Regions from separate parts of the Homo sapiens genome. Here region 2 is linked to region 1. Evidence: fine-mapped expression QTL. A gene starts in region 1. The other region holds a variant in brackets. All regions are shown on one strand. Distances are from middle to middle. Region 1 holds the start of EEF1A2 (eukaryotic translation elongation factor 1 alpha 2). Region 2 has its middle 5.5 kb from the start of KCNQ2.

The links. PIP is the estimated chance that this variant, and not a neighbour inherited with it, causes the effect.
Region 2: its variant is fine-mapped to the expression of EEF1A2 in esophagus muscle (GTEx, PIP 0.95).

What each region holds. Positions count from the first base shown.
Region 1 is chr20:63,497,315-63,500,205 of GRCh38, reverse strand. EEF1A2 (eukaryotic translation elongation factor 1 alpha 2) reads left to right here and starts at 1,123. Exons shown (of 8, transcript NM_001958.5): 1 at 1,123-1,148; 2 at 2,372-2,586. The coding sequence starts at 2,443. It overlaps LOC124904955 (a long non-coding RNA gene), which reads right to left and starts at 1,924. Exons shown (of 2, transcript XR_007067719.1): 1 at 1,583-1,924. RefSeq lists enhancers at 489-1,058, 1,319-2,114, 2,740-2,891.
Region 2 is chr20:63,476,691-63,479,581 of GRCh38, reverse strand. No RefSeq gene overlaps it. Among named protein-coding and RNA genes, the nearest start is that of KCNQ2, 5.5 kb to the right of the region's middle. RefSeq lists enhancers at 1-784, 785-1,597. The variant C/T (reference allele first, on the strand shown) is at 1,530.

The DNA of each region.
Region 1 (2,891 bases):
ACCCCGCTGGCAGGAAGATCCGAGTGCGTGGGGGTGGGGGGGCAGCGTGGGAGGGAAGACCTGAATACCTGGGTGAGACGACAGGATCTTGGGGTCTGGAGAAAGCCCCTAACCTTGGTCTTCACACAACACATGGCTGCCACATCCCCTTCCTCACAACCCACGTTGGTCATTACCCGCGTGTGCCAGGACCTCAGGGACTCCCCACTTCCTACAGAGCGTGGCCCGGTCTTTGGCTTGGCATCCTGACCCCATATGAGCATCAGCTACAAGGCGCTGAGGTGCAGCGGGGTGGGGCGCTGGGCGGGGGGGCCTGGGTCTGTCTGGATCTGACTCGCCCTTGGCTGGCGCTGTTTCCCAGCAGCAGCCGGAGGTCGGCGCACCCGGAGGGGAGGGTCCCTGGAAGATGTCAGTGGGTCTGGGAGCGGGCTTCCGGCGTTCCCTGCACCGTGGGAGACCAGCCTCTCAGGGGGAGGGTGGTTCTGCGCTGGATCCTCGGGGCCTGTCATGGTGCGCCCAGGAGGGCAGGCACGTGAGGACAGGGACTGGAAACCAGCAGATTTCCACCCTGAGGCCTGCACCCCCGGGCCTCATTAGGGAGAGCCCCTCAGAGCCGGGCTTCGTTGGTTCTGGGGCGTCCCCCATGAGCAGGGCCGGGGAGGGGCCGGTAGACCCAGGCTCGTCTCCCAGGCTGCAGCCCACCTGCTCCCCTCCCCCGCCTGCCGGCTCCGGTCCTCGGCGTCTGCCCTGTCCCCGGGGACCGCTTTTCGCGGCTCAAGCGTGTTCCTGCCCTGAGCCGGCTCTCGCCCCGTCTCCCGGGCCCGCCGCGCTCTCCCCGCGCCGTCTCCGTCCCGGTCCCTCCCTCCCGCCGCCTCCCTGCCCTGCCCCCCGCCCCGCCCCCGCCCGCGGCGCGTTTCTCCCCCGCCTCCCGCGTCCGTCTTTGCAGCCCGCGCCTCCCGCATCGCCTCGCGTCCCCGTGGCGCCCGCCCGCGCGCGTCCGCGCCCCGCCCCCTCCCGCGCGGTTCCGCATTGGCGTGCTGCAGGGCGCGGTGCACTGCGCCGCCACCGTCAATAGGTGGACCCCCTCCCGGAGATAAAACCGCCGGCGCCGGCGCCGCCAGTCCCTCTGGCTGAGACCTCGGCTCCGGGTAAGGACGCTCGGCCCCCGGGCCTCCGCCCCCGCCCCCGTCTTCCGAAGAGGGACCCCCGGGGCCGGTCCTGGGGGGCAGAGGGTGGCCGGGCCCCGCACCCGCCCCCGCGCGCGCCCGGAGTCCGGCTTCCGGGGGTCCCCGCGTCGGCCGGGCTGGGCCCGGGGTGGGGGGCGGCGCGGGGCGGCGGGGCCGGGTCCTGGGCGGCGATCGCCCCGTAGCCGTGACCTTGGGGCCGCGGGGACCCTGCGGGCCGGGGGCTGATGGGGGTCGGGCTTCGGGGCGCTGGGCCAGAGGACGCTGAGGGAGGTGGTGAGATCTGGGGGCCCTGGCCTCCCCACCCCCACCCGTGTTCCCACCCCAGGGTGGCTTCTGTCCTCTTTCCCTCCCCCAGCCACCTGTCCGCGAGGAGCAGCGTGGGTTTCTCCACTGACCTCTGTGATGGGACAGGGCTGTGACCCAGGGTCCTGAGTCACAGGGAGGGGGGGAGGGAGGGTGCCCCCTATACCCCCACGGGGCCGAGGGCATCTCCACCTGGCACTTGCTGGGCTCGGCAGGGCCGGGTCCTCCTTCCTCAGGCTGGAACAGGGACCCCCACCTCCCGGCCGCTGTCTGTCCCTGTGAGAGTCCGGGAGGGGGGTGCCTAGAGCTATTCTGGGTTCCTAATCTGGGCAGCGCATCTCCGTCGGGGCTCTGGCCCAGCCTGCCGGGCAGGGATGAGGGGAAGATGGCGCCGTCCCTGCCTGAGGAGGGGAGTGGGGAGCAGTGGCCATCTCTCCCCGGTGGCAGCGGGTGGGGGTGGGGCGCCGTGTCCCTGGCCCTGCCGCCGGGGAGGGGAGTGCGCGTGCAGGACAGGGCCCTGGAGCGCTGGGCAGGTGACTCATCACCCGGCTCTGCTGGTCACGGACGTACCCAGCCTGGCGCTGCGTGGTCTCTCCAAATGGTGGCTAACCCCTTCCCAAGGAGCAGCCCGCGGGCTCCAACGCCCAGTTATTTACAGCAGATGGGGCTGTTTGGGCTCAAGTGTGGGGTGGGGGCAGTGCACAGCCTCTGCTTGCCCTGGCCAGGCCCAGCTGTGGGTGGGGGCCCTTCCCTCCCCACCAAACATGGGGGCTTGGTTTGTGGGCAGGGATGCCTGTCCAGCCTGTGCCAGGACAGTCTCTGCTGGTGTCTCCCCCTGGGGCTCCCCATCACCGGTCTCCCCACCACCACTGGCCCCACAGAATCACTGCAGCCCCCCTCGCCCTGAGCCAGAGCACCCCGGGTCCCGCCAGCCCCTCACACTCCCAGCAAAATGGGCAAGGAGAAGACCCACATCAACATCGTGGTCATCGGCCACGTGGACTCCGGAAAGTCCACCACCACGGGCCACCTCATCTACAAATGCGGAGGTATTGACAAAAGGACCATTGAGAAGTTCGAGAAGGAGGCGGCTGAGGTGAGCTCCCCAGGCTATGGTCTTGGCCCCCTGAGAAGGAACCCCCAACTCCCGTGGTGGCCAGGCTTGGCATCTCCCAGCCCCAGGGCATGGGGCTCAGGTGACCTCCTCCAGGGCAGGAGGGACCCCCGCTGTGGGGCACTCAGGCCTCAGAGGGTCTGGTGGGGCAGCCTCTCTCTTAGGGGGAGCTTGGTGGGGGAGGGGTGGCCATCGAGCTGCCGGACTTGCCCTGTGGTGAGGGAGGTGACCTGGGAGGGTCTGCAGAAGGCTCTGGAACTCTGCCATGTTGAGCTGGGGCTGGAGGG
Region 2 (2,891 bases), 21 kb after region 1:
TTCCCATGTCCCCACATGGCACGAAGCAGAGAAGGGAACCCAGCGCCCGTGTCTCTTCCCCTGAGGGTGCTGGTCCTCTTCCGAGGGCTCCACCCTCCTGACCCAGTCACCCCCAAAGGCCCCCTCTCCTAACACCATCACACTGGAGTGAGGGTTTCAGCATGTGGATTCTGGGGACACATCCAGTCCACGCAGGCCTGAGTGGCCGCCTGGTCTGCTGAAAGCCACTCAGCTCGGGCAGGCCCATGGCGGCTGCCTGCGGGCCATACTCTCTGCAGCCCACACCAGCGCCGCCCTCTGCAGGGGCTGAGGCAGATGCTGCTGGGTGCCGAGGGTGGCGCCTTCGTGTTTGCCGGAGGGTGTGGGGCAGCGGGCCGCCCTGGGAGCCTTGGGACTCGCCGGACTTCAGCTCTGTGCAGCCTCTGGTGTGCAGCTTGGAGAACCCAGCCTTTCTGAACCATCCACCTGGTGTGGCGCTAGATGACCTTGTCCTGGATGTGGGGTGGGGAGGGCTGTGACAGTCCATGGGCCTTGCCAAGGCTGGATGGCCCCGCCCAAAGCCTACTGGACATCTGGCCAAGCAAGGCCCTGGTGAGCGTGGGCAGGACGTTGGTGGGTGGGCAGCCAGGGCACAGATGCAGCCTGCATGGGCAGGACGTCTGGCCGCTCCGCTAGTCCTGAGCTCCAGCTGCCCATGTCCTCTTGGGGTCTCCCCGGCAGCCCTGAGCCACACAAGCCCCAGGCCTGTGACTGAGGCCACATCTGGCTGGGGGCTCCAGCGACGTCCAGCCCCAGGTCAAAGTGGCCATCTGTCATCTGACAGGTTGACATGCACCTTCCTTGGGCTAGGTGGGGCTGTGAGTGTCTGTGCCCACCCCTCCCCCCACACCTTGTGCGCTCTGTGCAGTGGGGCAGCAGCGCCAGGCAAAACAGTTTCCCATCGGGATGAGGACCAGCTCCAGAGAAGGTGGGGAGGGGACCCCGCGCCAGGGCCTCCCTGAGAAGAAGCAGTGTCTGCCATCCTGGTGAGCAGAGGAGACAGCAAATGCAAGAGCTCCTTGCCTGCTCAGGGATGTCGGGGTGGCCGTGTGCCCAGGAAGGGAGGACGGGGGCAGAGGGGTCGGTGGTCTTGGAGCGTGTGGCAGGGCCAGGTCTCAGGAGCGAGGAGGCCTTGATGAGGAAAGCATTTGGGTAGCGTCGAGGTGCCAGGGAGTCTGGATGTGTAGATCCACGGTGGGGCCTGGTCTCTCCCACGAGTGAGCGTGGCGCCTGCGTTCCTCACGATATATCTGCCACAGAACGGGGACGATTGCCACAGCTTCTCCATTTGCCTGAAGGCATAGGAGGGGGCGTGTGGGAGGCCACCTGTGACACCTGTGGACCAGAGATGACAACATATGGGGTTTGGGGATGCCACGGCACAGCATCAAGCAGAGAGTTCCCTCGAGGTCCCAGAGCTACAGGTGGATTTCTGCCCTTTCCGGATGCCTCCGGAGCCACCGTAGCTCCCCAGCCGTCACAGCTGACCA[C/T]GGGCTCCTCAATTGACGGTATTATTGGTGGCTGGGAAGTACAAGTCAACTCCCTCATGCAATTAGCCGGCTTGCCAGGGGCTAGGGAAGCTTATTGAGAGCCTTGGTCCTTTAGAAAAAACTGTAAATTAAATTTTTATTGACTTTAGTGTAAGATGTTAAAAAAAATCAATGCTTTCATATCTTAAATCTTTTCCTCACTCCCCTGCTCCCCCGCAAGCGGATAAATACAGCCTTTCCTCCTCCTAATAATGTAAAATTCCTTTGGGGGGGCTGGGCCTCCCTGTCTGGGGAGGCACTTCCTGTCGCCCAAATTACAGGGTTAAACCCGCAGCAGCTCTGGCCCAGGTGAGATGACTGAGAACCTGTCTCTCCTCATCTCATTTCCCCAAATTAAATGTTGTTCCTCCTCCAGGCCTCTGTGGGGTCGTCTGTTTTTCTGAAGGTGCAGTGACGGGGAAGCAGCTCCCTCCGTTTCCACCGGGAGGCACGGGCCCAGGTGAGATGACTGAGAACCTGTCTCTCCTCATCTCCTCATTTCCCCAGATTAAATCTTGTTCCTCCAGGCCTCTGTGGGGTCGTCTGTTTTTCTGAAGGCGCAGTGACGGGGAAGCAGCTCCCTCCATTTCCACTGGGAGGCACGGGGTGGTGGCCTGGGAGGCCCTGCTTTCCAGTGTCCGCAGGGGCTATTGTCACTGGTGCCGAGGCCCTCAGAACGCAGGTGAAGCTGAGCACCTGGGCACAGATCCCACCCATGACAGCACAGCGTCAAAAGAGCATAAAATCTGGCCTGTTCTAGCAGGGGCCACAACCCGCGGGGGCCACCAGCACCATGTAGCCGTCTTGCACAAACTCACAGTGGCAGTCCCCGCCTCCCCGATCCCGCTGCTGACGGCCCCACACAGGAGGGCGGCCAGAGGAAGCTCATATGCCTCTCAAGTCACTACCCATGCTTGGTTTCCTGGGGTTTTTGTTCGTTTGTTTTTTTTGTTGTTGTTTTTTGTTGTTAAGATGGAGTCTCGCACCATTGCCCAGGCTGGAGTGCAATCATGCAATCTCGGTTCACTGTAAACTCCACCTCCCGGGTTCAAGTGAGTCTCCTTTCCCAGCCTCCCGAGTAGCTGGGATTACAGGCGAGCGCCACCCTGCCCGGCTAATTTTGTATTTTTAGTAGAGACGGGGTTTCTCCATGTTGGTCAGGCTGGTCCCGAACTCTCGACCTCAGGTGTTCCACCTGCCTCGGCCTCCCAAAGTTCTGGGATTACAGGCATGAGCCACTGTACCCGGCCTGTTTTGTTTTTTTTTTGAGACGGAGTCTTGCTCTTGCCGCCCAGGCTGGAGTGCAGTGGCATGATTTCAGCT